Homo sapiens: one gene and its partners. The protein of the gene in region 3 purifies or fractionates together with the protein of the main gene of each other region. This does not show direct contact. Each region holds a gene or a part of one and is shown on either strand. Other genes may lie near its edges.

The links. Proteins that work in one complex are often made in the same cells at the same time.
Region 1: the proteins of TMOD4 (region 3) and KAT14 purify together in Homo sapiens (affinity purification with mass spectrometry; 2 studies listed by BioGRID and IntAct, with this or other methods). This does not show direct contact.
Region 2: the proteins of TMOD4 (region 3) and NELFA purify together in Homo sapiens (affinity purification with mass spectrometry; 2 studies listed by BioGRID and IntAct, with this or other methods). This does not show direct contact.
Region 4: the proteins of TMOD4 (region 3) and GIT2 purify together in Homo sapiens (affinity purification with mass spectrometry; 2 studies listed by BioGRID and IntAct, with this or other methods). This does not show direct contact.

Annotation. Positions count from the first base shown.
Region 1 is NC_000020.11:18,144,363-18,148,609, reverse strand, and holds part of KAT14 (cysteine-rich protein 2-binding protein), read right to left. Parts: intron 3,512-4,247; exon of another isoform or gene 3,378-3,511; coding exon 3,259-3,377; intron 1-3,258. UniProt on the Homo sapiens protein: Component of the ATAC complex, a complex with histone acetyltransferase activity on histones H3 and H4. May function as a scaffold for the ATAC complex to promote ATAC complex stability. Has also weak histone acetyltransferase activity toward histone H4.
Region 2 is NC_000004.12:2,005,428-2,010,201, forward strand, and holds the start of NELFA (negative elongation factor A), read right to left. Parts: upstream 3,548-4,774; 5' UTR 3,533-3,547; coding exon 3,323-3,532; intron 2,620-3,322; coding exon of another isoform or gene 2,536-2,619; intron 1-2,535. Other genes in the region: uncharacterized protein LOC124900839, read right to left, coding at 3,579-4,334. UniProt on the Homo sapiens protein: Essential component of the NELF complex, a complex that negatively regulates the elongation of transcription by RNA polymerase II.
Region 3 is NC_000001.11:151,173,182-151,178,656, forward strand, and holds the start of TMOD4 (tropomodulin-4), read right to left. Parts: upstream 2,801-5,475; 5' UTR 2,743-2,800; exon of another isoform or gene 1,737-2,742; 5' UTR 1,695-1,736; coding exon 1,572-1,694; intron 1,367-1,571; coding exon 1,210-1,366; intron 435-1,209; coding exon 318-434; intron 1-317. Other genes in the region: VPS72 (vacuolar protein sorting-associated protein 72 homolog), read right to left, coding at 3,463-3,883, 4,820-4,964. UniProt on the Homo sapiens protein: Blocks the elongation and depolymerization of the actin filaments at the pointed end. The Tmod/TM complex contributes to the formation of the short actin protofilament, which in turn defines the geometry of the membrane skeleton.
Region 4 is NC_000012.12:109,947,122-109,951,368, forward strand, and holds part of GIT2 (ARF GTPase-activating protein GIT2), read right to left. Parts: intron 4,196-4,247; coding exon 4,046-4,195; intron 1,726-4,045; coding exon of another isoform or gene 1,702-1,725; exon of another isoform or gene 384-1,701; coding exon 135-383; intron 1-134. UniProt on the Homo sapiens protein: GTPase-activating protein for ADP ribosylation factor family members, including ARF1.

The DNA.
Region 1 (4,247 bases), on a different chromosome or scaffold from region 3:
AAAAAATGAACCCCAGTTTAGTTTTCTGCTCTCATGTTACCAGACCAAGCTCATCAGTAATGAGGCTGATCTTGTGGACCAATGTATCCACAGGGCCTAGCTCAGAGCTGGCAGGTACTCAGTATATGCTGAAGAACACTAGAAAAATAACAAGCAAAGATCGATCATAGTATCTTTACTTGTGCCATAAGAATGAGTCTCCAGGAAAAGAATGCAAAAACTTCCCTATCCTTCCCAAATGTTTGATAAAGTTTCTCCTACGTATGGAACTGCTATTCACAGGAGTCACCAAGGAAGAGGAGAGGACACAGAAAGGGAGTGTGGCAAGAAGGGGCTTTTTAATCAGGAGATCAGACCTCTTTACTGTAAGTATTTTATAATACAAACAAAATGCTATTTGTGTTACAAGCATTTCTACATATTTCTTTGGTAAATCTTTCAAAGTTTAAAATTTAAAGACGGAAAACCCACATTTCAATATACTAAGAATGTGGCTACATCAATGGAGTCCATTCAAGACCAACTGATTCTCTTTCAGGTCTTCAGTGAGAGATGGGCTTTTTCAGATGCAACTAGAAATACTGGTCAGTTGTTTGCTAAGAACCACATATGTGCAACCTAAGTTATCACTTCACCCTACCAGGTTAGTATCCACCATCAATACGTATTTTGGAAGTGAAAAAATAATCTGCAAGTTATGTTAGTCTAATTAAATATGCAAAGTGGCCGGGCACGGTGGCTCACGCCTGTAATCCCAGCACTTTGGGATGCCGAGGTGGGTGGATCACCTGAGGTCAGGAGTTCGAGACCAGCCTGGCCAACATGGCAAAACCCCATCTCTACTAAAAATACAAAAAATTAGCCAGGCATGGTGGCACATGCCTGTAATCCCAGCTACTAGAGGGGCTGAGGCAGGAGGATTGCTTGAACCTGGGAGGCGGAGGTTGCAGTGAGCCGAGATTGTGCCACTGCACTCCAGCCTGAGCAACAGAGTGAGACTGTGCCTCAAAAAGATTTAAAATTTTTTTTTAAAAAGAATAAATAAATATGCAAAGTGAGCCAATATTACATACTCTGAGCAAAATAAGCAAAAGCCAGCTTTTCTTTTAAAAAGAACCACTACAGAAAACTCACATTTTTGAAAATTTACATATATTTGCTCTTCTTCCATTTTACAGCTTTTATGAGAAACAACTTGCAGGACAAATACAAATCTACCTGTGTGCACATATCACAATAATCTATTAATAAGATCTTGCCTACACACAGTATCCCATGTACACTTGAGAAAAATGTCCCAGTTATAATATTCATAAGGCTCTATCCTCAATACAAACTTCTCTTCATTTTCTACTTACATTTTTTTCAGGCAAGTCAAAGAAAAGGCTTCCTAATTCAACACTGACAGATTTCATCAGCTGTCCTAATAAAGCACTGATAATTAAGATAATAGACGAAGGCTGCTAAGGCAACTACAATTTACAAGGAACACCATAAGTGGCTAAAATGGTGTAATTTAAAATCTTTCTCATTACTCTATTTCCTTCAAAGTAAAAAGTGCTGTGGGTAATTATCTTGTTGATCTGTTTATTATCAAAATTAAGTATAGAATGTCAGCTGTCTTGGGGCAGAGGCCTTAGCTGTCTCGTTCACCACAGTAGTCTCAGGCCTAGAACAGCACCTGGTTCATAACAGGTACTCAGTATCTGTTGAATGAATGAATGAACATAAAAACTAAGTAATATATAATTTTTTTTTTTTTGAGATGGGGTCTCACTCTGTCACCACCCAGGCTGGAGTACAGTGGCTCGATCACAGCTCATTGCAGCCTCAACCTCCCAGGCTCAAGCAACCCTCCCACATCAGTCTCCTGAGAAGCTGGGACCACAGGAGTGCACCACCACCACATTCAGCTAATTTTTGTATTGTTTTGTTTTTTTGGTTTTTTTTGAGATGGACTTTCACTCTTGTTGCCTAGGCTGTAGTGCAGTGGCGCGATCTCGGCTCACTGCAACCTCCGCCTCCTGGGTTCAAGCAATTCTCCTGCCTCAGCCTCCCAAGTAGCTGGGATTACAGGCATGTGCCACCGCACCCAGCTAATTTTGTATTTTTAGTAGAGACGGTGTTTCTCCATGTTGGTCAGGCTGGTCTCGAACTCCCGACCTCAGGTGATCTGCCTCCCTCAGCCTCCCAAAGTGCTGGGATTACAGGCATGAGCCACCGCGCCTGGCCTGTTTTTTATAGAGTCGGGGTTTCACCACGTTGCCCAGGCTTGTCTCCTGAGCTCAGGTGATCTGGCCGCCTCCGCCTCCCAAAGTGCTGGGATTACAGATGTGAGCCACCATGTCTGGTTTCATCTGGTTTTTGAACTAAAAAGTATACACTGATGCCTTATTATTCATATTATACATTAACATATTGACATAGAAACAAAACTAAAACAATTTAATACAACCTGGAGATCAGCAAAAAGCTATTGTTTAGGATACAGCTGACTTAGATTAGGGTGCTGATATTAGAGACAGTTAAAAAGGAACAAGTATTTCAGCAAACAAAAATTCAAACATCTCCGAGTTCAAATGCAGAAAAGCTGGGTTATGTTGGTTTTTGCAATCAGTCACCTTCCTTCTTCCAAATCTATTTTCAACATAGCCATCTTTCCACTTTAAAAAAATAGTTTTATTGTTCTTAAAATGGCTGCCAGGAAAATGAGAATTTCATTTTCAATTATAATCAGAGCTTGGTATCACATATAAAAGAAATCATGAGATTCTCAAGCCTCTCAAGCCCAATTCACCAAGTCAGCAGTGAATATATTTTTTTTTTTTTGAAAAGGAGTCACACTTTGTCGCCCAAGCTGGAGTACAGTGGCACGGTGTGGGCTCACTGCAGCCTCCGCCTCCCAGGTTCAAGCGATTCTCCTGCCTCAGTCTCCCAGGTAGTTGGGATTACAGGGGCCCACCACCATAGCCAGCTAATTTTTGTATTTTCAATGGAAATGGGGTTTCACCATGTTGGCCAGGCTGGTCTCGAAGTCCTGACCTCAGGTGATCTGCCCGCCTTGGCCTCCCAGAGTGCTGGGATTACAGCGAGTATTTTTCACTCCCTTCTCCACATATTCGGTATCTAATTTCATTGCGAAATAAAAAGTGCCCCTCCAAACAACTCAAAAGCTCATCCCTAAGTTTCTAGATATTCGTTCCAACAAACTCCTGGGGGAACCACCCTCATGGATTTGGGGAAGGGCTTTTTACTCACTTGCTGCCATGTCAGCTTCAGCCTTTCATACTGCTCCTTGCCATCTGCTGAGCAATCCGAACAAGTAAACCTAAAAAAATTATCACCCTTAAGGTAACTGAGCTGTTCCCTCAGCTGACCTAGGAGAAAAACAAAAAGTCACATCATGGGTTTATCTAGAGCAGCGGTAACCTAAAGGTTTAATCCGTTTATCACCCAGATTTTCCTTTCCCATGTTGTCTTCTTTTCTTCAGCCAACCCACAATTGCAAAATGGGGAAAAGGAAGGGAATTAGAAAGATTTCTATTCTTCTAACACCAAGTATACGCCCACTAAGATCTGTAGGATCCAGTAACTTTTAGGAGAAAGGTACTGGAAAAGCAGGTATTGTTGCTGGATTTCCCAATTGTCACATTCCTGACTCCCAGAGGCAGGTCTCTTCACACATTCTTTCAAAAAATATGAGCTCCCTCTGCATACCAGGCACTGGGCTAGGAACTGGGAATACAAAGTCCAAGACAGATAATGGTGCCTGATCTCACAGGTTTGCACTTCCCTGAGGGCTGCATAGAAAACAGGTGATCACAACAACACAGTGGTTCTCCATGCTCACAGTGCATTGGAATCACCCAAGTTGTTCTTGGTTTTCTAAATATGCTTGATTCTAGCCCAGATAAAATGCATCAATTTCTGAAGCAGAGCCTAGGAGTTACATTTCTTAGTCCCTCAGGTGATGCTGATGCTCTGTGACACATAAGGAATGGAATGTGCTGTGTACCACAGGGCAGTGTGAGGGTAAATAAAAGGAGGCCCAACCTATATTAGGGGGAGGCTTAGGATTAGAAATTGGCCAGGTGAAAAGGGGTCTCTTTGTGTATAGGGAGAATGGAGGCTGTGGAGATGCATATTCCAGAAGAAAAAAACTGTGCAAAGCCCTAAGGATAAGAATTGTTTGTGAAGAATAAGTTCACCCTAACTGCAAAGTTGTGTGGGAATCAAAGAAACTACAG
Region 2 (4,774 bases), on a different chromosome or scaffold from region 3:
GTCACAAATTCATTATCCAAAAATCAGGCTGGGCATAGTGGCTCACCTGAGGTCAGGAGTTCGAGAGCAGCCTGGCCAACATGGTGAAACCCCATCTCTACTAAAAATACAAAAATTAGCCAGGTGTGGTGGTGCATGCCTGTAATCCCAGTTACTCGGGAAGCTAAGGTAGGAGAATCACCTGAGCTCAGGAGGAGGAGGTTGCAGTGAGCTGAGATCGCGCCACTGCTCTCCAGCCTGGGTGAGAGAGTGAGATCTCCGTCTAAAAAACAAACAAACAAACAAACAAACAAAAACAAAAATCAACGCATTTCTATATACCAGCAACAAGTAAAAACTAAGACTTTAACAGATACCATTTACAACGGCATGGAAAAATATGAAATAGGTGGTAATATATGAGATGGAAGACCCCTACAGAGATCACAAAGAACATCTAAATAGATAAGCCCACACCCACAAATTATAGGATGCAATATAAAGAGGACAGCACCCCAGAATGAACTGCAAGTTCAGCTCAGCCTTAAAATCCCAGCAGGCAGGCTCTACGTGTTTAAGAAGTAAGTATATAAGATACATGTGGAAGTGTGAAGGGACAAGAATAGCCATAGATGATCCCGGAGAAAGATACAGTGGGAGGGTTTGCTCCGTCCGCTAACAAGGCTTATAAATAAAGTGACAAGAACCGACTTAGTGGGTTATTAGCACATCGATATGTAAATGACCAAAAGAACAGAGCACAGCCCAGAAACACATCCACAGCAGAAGCTGCAGTGCAGATCAATGGAAAAGGACAGTCATTTCAATCAACGTTGGGTGCTGGACTAATTGCACATCCATGTGGAAAATTAGACTCCCTGCTTCACACAATCATCAATTCCACGCAGACTGAAGATTCAAGTGCGAAAGGTAAAACTGTACAGCTACGCCAAGATAACCCAGGGAGTGTTCCGGGCATGTCCCTCGGGGAGACACAATAGGCACCAATGATAGTGGGCGGATGAATACACCATCTATGTTAAAACTAGGAGCTTCTATTCATCCATGATTCCAGGAAAAGGGCTGGGCGCACAGATCACACCTGTAATCCCAACACTATGGGAGGCCAAGGCAGGAGGATCACTTGAGGCTAGGAGTTCAAGACCAGCCTGGGCAATACAGTAAGACCCCCATCTCCATACACATGCACAAAAATTAGCCAGGCGTGGTGGCAGCGCATCAGTCCCAGCTACTACAGAGGTTTAGGAGGGAGGACTGCTTAAGCCCAGGAGTTCAAGGTTAAAGTGAGCTATGATTATACCACTAGACTCTAGCCTGGGTGACAGAGTGAGACGCTGTCTCAAAAAAAAAAAAAAAAAAAAAAAAAAGGATTCCAGGAAGCTAAGTCAAAGTCAAAGGACAACTGGGAGATATTTGTAACTGAAAAAGGACTGATATCTAGCATTTATAATAAATAATAAAAAAGACACTCTTACAAAACAATGGGAAAAAAGAGAATTTAAAAGCAGATTTGAATATACAATTCTCAAAGCAGAAAACCAAACAGCAGGCCGAGTGCCATGGCTCACACCTGTAATCCCAGCCCTTCAGGAGGCTGAGGCAAGCAGATTGCTTGAGGTCAGGAGTTCAAGACCAGCCTGGGCAGCATGGTGAAACCCTGTAGTCCCAGCTACTCAGGAGGCTGAGATGGGAAGATCTGAGGTGAGGAGGTCAAGGCTGCAGTGAGTCACGATGGTGCCACTGCACTCCAGCCTGGTTGACAGCGCCAGACCCTGTCTCAAACAAAACACAAACACAAAAACAAAACACTCTGAAAAATAATTTGGCATGATCCTATGATCCTCACAATTCCACTCCTAGATGTTATACCCTAGAGAAATCCAAGATTCCAAACACCTGAACATATGACCGTAATGTAGTAACGGGATGATTTACAAGAGCACAAAAGCTAAGCGTGTCACTGTGGCAGAATGGATAAAGTGCCTCGTGCTCACAGACAGGAATACCACGCAGCAGTGAAAATTAAACTGCAGTCAGCTGCAACGTGGATGAAACTGTCACGGCGTCGACCAAAAAGACACATGCACGCCACACACAAAATACACTATGATACCATCACACTAACTCCAAATCCGGCAACCAAGCTGTGCCATTTAGGGGTGCATAAATAATTGCTCACACCGGGGAGATGGCACAGAAATGATTACCTTTCCAAAATGAGGAAGGGGAAAGGAAGAAGGCCGTGATTACCAGTGGGAGGCTTCCAAGGAACAGGCATGGTTCTACTTCTCCACCTGTGTAAGGATCACAGGAGTGGCTCGCGATGCTATTATTATTCGTTAAACTGAACAAAAATGCACTTTTCCATACATGTCATATCTCAATCAAAAGCAATTACAACCTATAATAGCTAATAATACATCAGTAGCCAGGAACGTTTAAACAACCATGGGGCTTCAATAGTCTGCAAAACTACTCGGTTTATTTCGCACGGAAAGCGATACAATATAAAGTTTAGGAAAAAAGAAAACAAACCTCACACACCCACTTATTGGAATGACGCAAAACGGCGTGTAGAAAAGAGTAAAACGGACACAGAGCGCTCCGGACGGCCGGGGTCTTTGCGAGGTGAGAACAAGAAAATCCAGTCAGCGGACACTGGAGCTACCGAGCCCAGGCCGCCCCTTCCTCACGCGGGGGTTTCTCTCGGGATCCCCGCCCTCGCCCAGGTCACCAGGGCTGCGTCCCCGACGGGAAACCCCGATGGGAGACCCCGCTGGGGCCGGCGCACCCCCGCTCCAAGAGTCGGTCGCTTCGGCACGGTGGGGGATTAGGGTGGTGAGGACCGAAGGCGGGGGAGGCGGGGGCGGGTGGGGATGAGTACCCGGGGGCCCAGGGAGGGGAGTGAGGACCTGGGGGTCGTAGCGAGAACCCGGGGCCCGGCGGGGAGGAGATTGAGGATCCCAGGGGAGGTGAAAACTTGGGTAGGGGTGAGGACGAAAAGTAGGGAGGTGAGGACCCTAGTGGGGGATTCCCAGGGGGCGAGGAGGGGCGGGGGGTCCTGAAGACCCACGGTGGGGATGAGAACCGAGGTGGGAGATGAGGATCGAGGCGGGGGATGAGGACCCAGGGGGAGGTGAGGACTGGAGGGAGGTATTCGGAGGAGCGAGGAGGGGGCGTGAGGGCGGGCCGGGGGGGTTAACAGTCTGAAGGGGGATGGGAAGGTTGGGGGAGGGAGCGAGGAGGGTCCGGAGTTGGGTGTGCGGGTCGGAGGTGGGAAGGTTGGGAATCTGGGGGCCGCGGGGCGCCACGCCTGCCTTACCTCGTCCACCGTGCGGCGCGGGAGGTGCAGCGTCCCGAGTAGCAACTTGAGCTTCACTGCCGACGAGAGGCCATGGAAGCAGAGACGGATGTTGTCGATGACCGCGGCCGTGAGCAGGGACGCGATGCTGGGCGGCGCCCACAGCTCGTCCGTGGCCCCCAGCTTGTTGTGCAGCCACAGGCCCGTGTCGCTCTCCCGCATGGACGCCATCTTGGGGGAAAGCGCGCGCCGCTGCCCCGGCATCTTATGAAGACACCTACGCGTCCCTCGCTAGGACCCCAACATGGCGGCGCCCGTCGGGCTGCGGGCCGCAGAGGCGGCGCAGGTGGCGCGGTCCCACGAGCGGGGCTTCCCGGGAGAGCGCTTCTGGGTGGCGACCGCGTCTCCGGGTAGCGGCCGCGTCTTCGGGAAGCTTTGTGGCAAAGCCGAGAGCCGGAAGGACGGGGTGCCGCTGAGCAAGGACTATCGGCTTCCGTAAAACATCATGGCGGCGCCCTCTGCTGGCTCTCGGGAAGACCGCAAAAAATGACGTCACGAGCAGGCGCGCGTATTCGCGTCTTGGGAGCCCGGGCTGCGGCCTGGCATTCGCAGTGCAGGTGTCAAGCGCCGCAGACTTGCTGCTCGCGCGGTGGGGCGGAGGCTCCCTGTGGCACCTGCCCCGCTGTCCGCTCTTCGCTTTTTCCCCGCTTGGGTCTCGGCGCGGACCGTGTGGACGCCCCGCCCCCGCGGGCCCAGCACCTGCACGGAGAGGAGCCGCGGCCCTGCGGAGCGAGCCTGCGGGATCCCGGTCGCAGCGCTGAGCTTCCGTCCCCCGCTGAGCCCGCTCTGCCCGTGGCGCGCCGCCGACGGGGCTGCGCTGAGCATGCGGGTCGGAGGGCGCTCGGGAGCTGTCCAGGGGCACTCGTGACCCCACAGTGCAGGGAGGCCCCGGCCCCCAGTCGGGCTGGAGCCGCCAGGCAGGAGCCAGTAGTGAACTTTTCAGTTTTAAAAGCTTGTCATTAGATACAAACATGAGTAAAAGTTAAACTTCATTTTATTAAATTCGTTTTACCCTTTTGTCTTTTTGACGAGGCCTTCCTATGTTGGCCAGGCTGGTCTCAAACTCCTGGGCTCAAGCGATCCGCCCGCCCGCCTCTGCCTCCCAGAGTGCTGGGGTTACAGGTCGGGGCCGCCTTGCTTGGCTTCTGTATTATATCTTTTTTTTAAAAGATCTTTTCCTTATTGTTCCACTGCCATGCTCCTGCCGCCGTTCACAGCTATTGCCACTGGGCGGTGGGAACGCCGGGAGAACAGGGCTCAGCCCAGCTGCTAGCAGTGCCCTGGCCCTGGCGGCTTGAACTTGGCAGTCCTGCGGAAGTCACACGGGGGAAACCCGCAAATGCTACAAATCAGTGCTGGAGCGGTGGTTTTGTTGATTGCTTAAACTGAAGAAAGTGATAGAGAAAATGTTGA
Region 3 (5,475 bases):
CCGAGCTCAGGCAATCCTGAGTGCTCCCAAGTGCACTCAGGCCTCCCAAGTGCTGAGGTTACAGGTGTGAGTCATGGTGCCTGGCCCAATGATTCCACTTTTATTTGCTCTTACAATCCCTGTAAAATTGCTCTTGAGGTGTTATTAAATTTAAAAATGAATAAATATATAAACAAACAAGAAAAGCTTGAAACTACTGCTTGACGCTTTCTTAGACATCCACATTCTGGTTGAGGGCCTTCCTCACTAGTCCCATGTCATGGCTAGAATCCACCTGCCCCTGATCCTCTCACCCTCAACTTCCCACAGCTACCCACCTGCAATGTCACACATTTCAGCATCTGTGGCATGTGCCAGTGCCTCCTCCAGCTCAGGCTCCAGGGTGATCTGCTCCTCTGCTGGGATTTCCCTCTTGGGCTGAATATAGGGTTTCCCTGATGGGGAGATGAAGGATGGCTCAGGTAGAGGTAATTTCTCCCAAGATCCTGGCCTCCAGGTTTCCTTCCTCCTCCAGGAGGTAGAATGCTGCGTCACGAAGGGACACTGGAAAGCCTGAGTCCTCTACAAACTCAAGAGTCCTTAGCCCCCTGATCTCTCAAGAACTGAAGAGTGCGGGGCTGGGCGCTGTGGCTCACGCCTGTAATCCCAGCACTTGGGGAGGCCGAGGCGGGTGGATCATGAGGTCAGGAGATCGAGACCATCCTGGCTAACATGGTGAAACCCCATCTCTACTAAAAATACAAAAAATTAGCGGCCGGGCACGGTGGCTCATGCCTGTAATCCCAGCACTTTGGGAGGCTAAGGCGGGCAGATCACGAGGTCAGGAGATCGAGACCATCCTGGCTAACACAGTGAAACCCCATCTCTACTAAAAATACTAAAAAATTAGCCGGGCGTGGTGGTGGGCGCCTGTAGTCCCAGCTACTCGGGGGGCTGAGGCAGGAGAATGGCGTGAACCCGGGAGGTGGAGCTTGCAGTGAGCCGAGACTGCACCACTGCACTCCAGCCTGGGCAACAGAGTGAGACTCCGTCTCAAACAAAAAGAAAAAAAAAAGAACTGAAGAGTGCAAGCTCGCATTTAAGTGTCAGGGCATCTGAGTCCCTAGGCAACTAGGAGCTGGAAGGTGAGAGGGAAACTGGAGTGGGGACGAGTGAGAGACAGCACAGCCACTTGGGTTCTACGAGGCATGGATGTCAGGGTCCCCATACCCTTCTTCTCGCCTGTGAAGGGCACCAAGTCATCACGCTCTTTGACTTCTAGTGCCTGTTGCTCCAAGTACTGCAAAAGGGCCTCTCGGTCCAGTGGCCCCGTTGGGCTCTTCTTTGTCTGGTCACGTTGTCTTAGTCCAGCTGGCAGGAGCATGTTCTTAGGGATGAGTTTTGGGGAGCAAGTCAGACCTCCCCTCTGACCTAGGTACTGCTAGGGCTCCCTAAAACATCACCGGACACCTTTCCCCTGGCCTTCTTAGGACCCTAGGTCCTGTAGCAAACCCTATTCTCAGCCACCCAGAGCCCAACACCCTTCCCAAATGCCTGGGACTGCCTCTGGTTCCCTGTGCTGGAGCCCCTACCTCAGGATCCATCTCCTGTAGTTCGCAGTCCAGCTGCTCTAGCTCCTCGGGGCTCAAGGTCCTTAGGATCTCATCTTCATCTATGTCTCTGTATTTCTCCAGTTCCTTCTGATATGATGACATGGTGGCCCCCACCCCCTCCCCACTGTGTGGTACTCACAGAGCCTGGGCAACATGGGACAAAAGGATGGACAATGGTAAGATGGACAGGGACACAGCAGGGACACAAAGAGACCAGCCAGGGGGGCAGAACATTGGATTGGATTTCTTGGAGATTAGAAGTCTAGTTGAGGATGGGAAGTGGGGAAGATTAGGTTGTTTAGAGTTAGAACTAGAGTCTCCTTTCTGCTTCCCCAGCTTCCAGCCACTCTGGATGGGGATCCCAGACATCTAAGCTGGGTTTGTCTTCCCACGGTATGACAGAGAAATCCTGGCAGCACCCCTCCCCTATAACCTCACTTGTCAGTGCCTTCGCCCTAACACAGCTGCTGGAAGCCCTGCCAACACAGCTGGTCCTATGCCCAGTTCCTATTGAAAGGGGATGAGGGGTGGGGGAATAGAGAGCTTCAGGGAAATTCCTCCTCTCCTCCTCATAATCCAGGCTTTTTCCTAAACCGGATAAAAAAACCAAGGACAATGAGGTGTAAGGGGAAGAGAGAGTCTCTTACCCCATCCTCATTTCCCTTTTATTGTGGGGGATCAAGATTTCACTTTCTGTGTTTGCTAAAATTTGAAGTCTTAAGGGAAAGCAAGGGCTCGGAGCAGTTGGGGGACTTCCAGGTTGGGGGAAGGGTAGTAAGGCCTCTGTGAGTCCCCATAATCTGTCCCTTGCTTTGGACAGGAAGGTGACACCAGACCAATGGGTGTAAATAGGGTAAAGTTTCTTTAAAAACAGTGGGAATATTAAACTCGCACAATTTTGTACAATATAAGATACGCATAAGGAGCTATGCATACACACCATGCTGAATATGAAAGATCCAGAAAGTATGTGAGACACATCGACAATGTAAACTATACACAGTTAAGGGGTAGGACGGCACAGTGGCAGAAATATACACTGAGTGACAGAGACAGGGACACACTCCACATCATTCCCCATAGGAGCCACTCTTCTCCTCCCATCTCCCACCGGGCTCTCATCCATAAGCCCCCTGTCTTCCCCACCTACCAGTCCTGGTGGTCACCTCCCTTCTCACCTCCCCTGTGTCAGTAGGTCTGTCTGTTCTACTAGAGCACTGTCCCAGCAGCAGGAGGAGCCCGGTGCCGGGGGAGAGGGTGGGGGAACAGTGAGCTCAGCATTTTATTATTTTAGCTCTGGCCAGGTGGGGGGTAGTGGGAGATCACATATACACAGCCCCCATACCCTGCCCAGCCCTGAGAGCCTCTAGTGGTCATTAACAGCCATGGCATCTCTTCCACTTCCCTTCATACAAGCCCCAGTCTGAGACATATGAGTTCGACTAGAATCAGCCAGTTCCTCCTTATTTGGTGCCTGCTGTATTCAAAACAGTGAGTGTAAAGTGATAGGAAGGTCAATACAAGGATGTGTTTTGGTGTGCAATTTTCAGATGTTTATAATTTAGTTGGAGGAATGAATACAATTTAGAAAGGACAGCTCATAATAAATGCTATCGAATAAAGACCCAAATATATGCAGGTATTCAAATACTTCTTGCTCCCAACCCTAGACTGGACACCAGACAAAAGGGATCTTTCTATTTTATTAGATTAAAAAACACAACGAAACCTGTAAGAACTAGGGGAAAAGGAAAAAGAAACAGATTAGGCAAAGATCAGAGATGACAAAGGGGAGAAGCAGGGAGAAGAAACGGAACAGCAAGAGCCCCAATCAGGGCAGGAAAGAAGTTTCTGAGGACTAGACATCTCTTCATTTAATGACAATTTTCTGGCGCAAGGCTCGGGGCCCAGAGCCAGGGAGGGGCTCAGGAGGTGGCGGGCCGGGGCCCAGGGCTGAGGCAGTGGGCGGCAGTCCATGGGCAGTAATGTACTTCTTGTAAGCCTCACGAATGATCTTGAAGGCTCGAGCAGTGGCATAGGGTATGTCTGTAACAGGGTCCCGGTATAGGGCTGGACGATGGGTCACTGGACAGACCTCACGAACAGGGACTTTTGGGGGCCGCCCTTGGGGGAACCATTCCTCGAAAGTTGCATCATCACTAAAAGTGATGAAGGTACGTGAGCAGCGAGCAGGGGGGTTGACGGGTCCAGTCCCAGCATGAGGAGTCAATGCAGACACCGAGGGAGCAGGATCAAGTCTGAGGACAAAAGACAAGGAAAAACACAAAGAGCTGAGGAGAGAAGACAACAGATACAGAAAGAAGGAAATCAGGCTGGGTGCAGTGGCTCACACCTGTAATTCCAGCACTTTGGGAGGCTGAGGCAGGCAGATGACGAGGTCAGGAGTTCGAGACCAGCCTGACTAACAAGGTGAAACCCTGTCTCTACTAAAAATACAAAAATTAGCCGGGCGTGGTGGCGGATGCCTGTAATCACAGCTACTCAGGAGGTTGAGGCAGGAGAATCACTTGAAGCCAGGAGGCGGAGGTTGCATGGAACCAAGATCGTGCCATTACACTCCAGCCTGGGTGACAGAGCAGCGAGACTCCATCTCAAAAAAAAAAAAAAAAGAAAAGAAAGAAAGAAGGAAATCAGAGAGATGAGGAAAGAGAAAAAGGAGGCAGGGTGTTGGGAACATTCTGAGGAACGTACTAAGTGACTGATGGGAAAAGAAAGCTAGGCTAGAAGGAAAAACAGGAAAGAGAAGAACAGAGAAGCTAAAAGAAAAAGGAATAAGAAAGAAATAAGCTGGGCTGGGCGCGGTGGCTCACACCTGTAATCCCAGTATTTTAGGAAGATGAAGCGGGACGATTACTTTAACCCAGGAGTCTGGGCAACACAGCGAAACCGTCTCTACAAAAAATACAAAAATTAGCATGTGTGGCTGTACTCCCAGCTACTTGGGAGGCTAAGGTGGGAGGATCGCCTGAGCACAGGAGGTGGAGGTTGCAGTGAGCCGAGACTGCACCACTGCATTCCAGCCTAGGTGACAGAGCAGCATCATGTCTCAAAAAAAAAAAAAGAAAAAGAAATTGAGCTGAAGGGAGTTAGGAATCTGAAAGAAATCTCCAAGTGTTAAGGAGAGCTGTGTGAGAAAAGCAAGCAAAATGGGGCCAAGAGAACATGAGCTGAACACACAATCTCTTTTCCTCTTGAGATTCACTCACCCTTCTATGTCAACGTTCTCTTCCTTGGGGCCTGGCTCCCCAACAAGTGGCACTGTCACTGAATGATAGGTGATTATGGGCCCGGGGCACTTCCGCTTCTTATGAACCTGCTTCTTTTTATCAGCCTCGAGCCGCTCATATGTCTCTTTAGGGTCAAAGGAAGAAATGAGGGGATGATCAGAATGTCCCTTTTTCCCATATCCCAGTACTGTCCCACGATCTCTCAATTATCTTCCTGGCTATCTAGTCACTGCCAACTACCAGAGACAACTATGGAAGTCCCCTAAGGCCGTCTGGCACCTCCCATTTTGTAAGTTTTCTGCTTATAAGTTTTTTCTTGACATCCTCTCTGCTCATTTCTCAAGTACACCTGGGCCCTCTATAGTACCTCAGAGTTGGAAGGTACCCTTTGATGAGGAGCTTATTTGCTTTCCCAGATACCAAAATCTCCTCTACAAATGCCCTGTCAATTCACTCCTACAGCTGGGTGTGCTGGCACACGCCTGTAATCCCAGCTACTTGGGAAGCTGAGGTGGAAGGATCGCTTGAGCCAGGGAGGTGGAGGTTGCAGTGAGCTGAGATGGCACCACATTGCACTCCAGCCTAGGCAGCAGAGTGAGATCATATCTCCAAAAAAAAAATTAGTAAGGTAGGAA
Region 4 (4,247 bases), on a different chromosome or scaffold from region 3:
ACAGCAAACACAATGGTAACTCTCTTAGTCCAATTTGGCAAAGCAGAGCTGTGGGGACCTGTAGGTTCAGAAGAGGGAACAGAGTAGACAGGCTGCATAGAGTGAACAGCAGAAGCGCCAGTGGTGTTACTTACGTGCGCGGGGAAGGGCTGGAGTCTCATCCTGCTCTCTTCGGGGCGGCTCGCTTCTCCCATTGGGAGATATGGTTTCTGACCTGATCCGGTCTCGTACATGGACATGGGCCTACTGCCCCGGGCAGACGGACGTCTCTTTAAGGAAGAGTGGTTGGAAGTGTCTGTGTACTCAGAACCAGTTTGCACCTGATATACATTGGTTGTGGCCTGTTTCCTGAGGTTCGAATTTTCACTCTGGAGTGTTTGAAGCTGAAAGAAATGTTTGGCAGTGGGACTGTGTTTTTTTACAGCAAGCAGAAAAAGCAAACACCAAGTAAATGAATACAACTACCAGTTTTAAACAATAAGGACAGTAACAGCTAGCCGGGCTGAAAGTAAAAAGCCAATACAAACAAGGACCCTTTCTTCTGGATTGGGTGAAACACAATCAACTCCCTTCATCACGTAAGCAAATTAAATAGCTTCATTTCTGAATGTGGAAAAGTTGTGGTTTGGACTTCCTCAAAACAAAATGTCTAACCACTTTAAAATTTGTCATGGTGGGGCTGGGAAATGTTTGCAGGCAAGCTGTACACTGGATTATTACTAAGGCTGTTTCAAGCAAGAGTTCGAGATCATTAAAACATCATTTAGGTAACTTGCTTTTCAAATGAGCCCTGAGCAATTTGTAAAGGCCAAAAATGACAGCAGACACCATGGAAGCAGCACAAAGATGACTAGGGTTGCTTTGCAAAGCAAGAAAGACAGAAGTTCAGCTTGTGAAAAATCAGATCGCCTATTGCTTTCCAAAAAGCCAACAAGAAAAATTATGATCAACAAGTTTTTATTACATAATACTCTTGATATTCCAAACAATTCAGCACTTTGTAAAAAAAAAAAGAAAAAAGAGAAAACCGGATCATGGTAAGTTTGCTATATTAACATATCACGAAGAAAACTGGAAACCTATTGATCTATGGAATTGACATCTTCGCATGGATGCTCCACGCAGCACGCTTGCTTCCGTCTGGTGAGTGATCATCTTTCGGCCAGGGCTGGAATATTTGGCCTTTCTCTCCTTTGGCTTTGTCACCCAAAAAACACGACCTCAGTGGTGTCAGCTTTGAACATGCTAATCTGCCTGGCACCACCCCATTTTAGAGACTGTCACTTGGAGGCCCTGAATGCTCCTTCCATTCCTCACATGCAGGCTGCTCCATGGTGCTGGATGGATTAGAGTTAAGGGGTCAGCAGGGAATCGTGTTACTCTTTGGCATCTGGCATTTTAAACACCATTCACCACGTCCATTCTGCGCAGGGTCCTTCCCTTCTGGTGCGCCTTCATCTTCCATGGACATTCTATAAGCTGGGTGTGGTGTGAGTTCAGCTGTCTACTCTTTGACAGAGATTGTAAAATCTGACCAAATTCCCCACCAGTGCCAAGGTTTAAGTCCACAAGCAACTGTTTGCACCAGAAGATCATTACTTTTTCAGTAGCAAACCCATTCAATGTTAGGAGTTACTTTCAATTTTTATTTAGAAAGCACCAATCTGTGAAAAATACACCAATAGTAGTTGCTCCTCTTCATTAATTAGCATCTTTTCCAAGCAACTGTTAAATGTGAAAGATCAGATACAAATCATGCTACTTTGTCAACTTTATGTATATTAAAAACTTTACCCAACTTTGAAATATAATCAATACATCTTTGCTAAATAAACAAATTCCATATACTTTATATTAATCATGCCAAACTGCTGTGAAAGTGTGACTTACTGCCTCTTCCACAAAAAGACCACTCATTCTGTTTCTCTGAAGAGCAAGCCATTACAGAATGATAGAATGCTTTTATATCACAAAGGCTGGCAGGGTATAGCTCATATCTGCAATTCCCTTTCCAGGGAAAGAACAGCTGCAAAGCAGCTGACAAAGCAGCCCTGAACATTTCTACATTCCAGGATACAGACAGGCATGAAGTGCCTGTTGAAACTATTCATTAGAGAACCCAGGGCCTAGAGTGAAATGGTCAAGGTTCAAGGACTGAGGTGTGTAACTGACACAGGTCCCTCAATGGGGCACTGGTGCATGTGATCACGTGTTTGTCTGTATAAAAAGCCTCTGTGGCAGTTATTTAGTTAAGGCCTTGAAATCTGAAACTTTATCCTAACACTTTTCATGCCTGGATTTTGTCTGAATGTGTTCTCATGAGCACAAGTTCTTGGTTTCAATTTTTAAAAATGTTAGTACTCTGTATTTAGAGAGATGTCTTCACATAAATTTTAATGACGTTTATCTTAATAAGAACCAGGCTACACTTTTTTATTTGGAAGGAGTATAAGGGAAAATAAAAAGTTATAGACAATTCAATAGTTTCAGAAATCAAAAGCACTTCTAAGAATTGATGAGATAATCAATAAGCAAAAGCAAATAATTTCACTTTGCATTTCTCAAAGAAGCTCAAGACATTTGCTTTCAGAGATAATGAGGCTCTCTCTGGTGATTTCCAAAAATACTAAAAGAAGCATTGTTAGATTTTAAAAGGTGATGTGCAGCAGATTGATTTACAGTGGCAAAATCAGCATGTTTCAGAAATAGTCACCTGGTCAAAATTATTAGTCCAATTAATGGAACAAACTATAATCCACTAAATAAAATATATTCCAAAGAAGGCAAAGAAAATACAGGTCCTGTATGTTATGACAAAGGGGCTCTCGGTCTGTCTCGTTTACAGCTGCACGGCAGCCCTAGACAGGGCTGGGAGACACAGAACAAGTGTCTGTTCGTTTAAGGCTAGCTGATCTTAAGCATTCTTCATTCCCTGCTACTATAGGCATTAGAGCCATTTATTTCAAAAAGTCTCAAAAATGCTCTAGAAGTCAACATCAAAAGAATCCTAGACCAAACCCCAGGCAAAAGTGCACAGCAATTTCCTTCCCTAGTAAACAGAGGGGCATGGGCCCCTTTTTAGTTCTTCCACCTTCCTTTAGGAAGCAGCACTGAAAAGAGTCCAGGCACACATGGAGTGTGCCACGTCCTCAGGTCTTGAAAATGATTTGAAAACCTTACTTCTCAAATGACAGCCTAAAGACATAGATTATATATTTCATTTTGTTTCTGGTTAAGTAAAGTGTCCAAATCTCATTTTAGAGCTGAATGATGAGTGATACCCACAAAGTCATGGGCAAAATTTGCAATTTTTCGAATTCCCTTATTTAGCCATCTCATAAGGAGTTGCATACACAATCCCCCTCCTACTAAGGGTATTCCTTGCTACCATCAACCACACTCCTTTTAGGGATTAATATATTCACACGGTTCTGATTCTCTCAAAAGGTAATGAATGAGAAAATGCTGAGCAAATGAGATTGTTTTTTACCAGTGTGCAGCTCTTCCTAGTACAAATGAAATGTTTTTTCTTATTTTTTGAGCACCTACTCTGTGGCAGGCCCTCCTGTAGGCTCTGGGGATAATACAAGTTAGTAGTAAAAACTGGTGAGCAATAAGGTGGGGATGTGGGATAGGGCTGCCAGGGTGGGAGCAGGGTTTGAATGCTGATAAACATGCCCCTGCCCAGGGCTCTCATTGGCTCTGTCTCCATGGTGTGATCATCCTTCCCTAGCAATGGGAAGAATCACATCCATGGAGCCCCATCCAGGTTTCCAGGAAGCACAGAATAGTCCAAGGGTTATTCTAATGGGCACAAATGCTTAAATAGATGTTAGGTTTCTCCTACCTGGGGAACTTACTCTGGATATATTTCATTTTAAATATCCAAATACATCCTGCTTCAAAAAGACAACTTGGCCCAAAGATTTCTAAGGCTGTTACAATAACTGTTTTTCTTTCCTCGGACCACATCACAGTGCCTGAGATTCTTCCTTGTACTATGGGATTAAAGCGTCAACCGTCCTGGCATTTATTAACATGTTACCTTTTTCTGCATAATTCTCAGCTCGTCACTCAAGTTGTTATTCACCTTCATTAGCTGCTGTATCTTGGCCTCAGAAGCCACTAGAGCGTTTTTGACCTCCATAAATTCCTGTACAGTGACTGGTCCATCTGATAAATCTGAATCTAGGCTCTAAAAATAAATTGGGAAAACGTTCACAATCTGAGATGACGAGAACATTAAA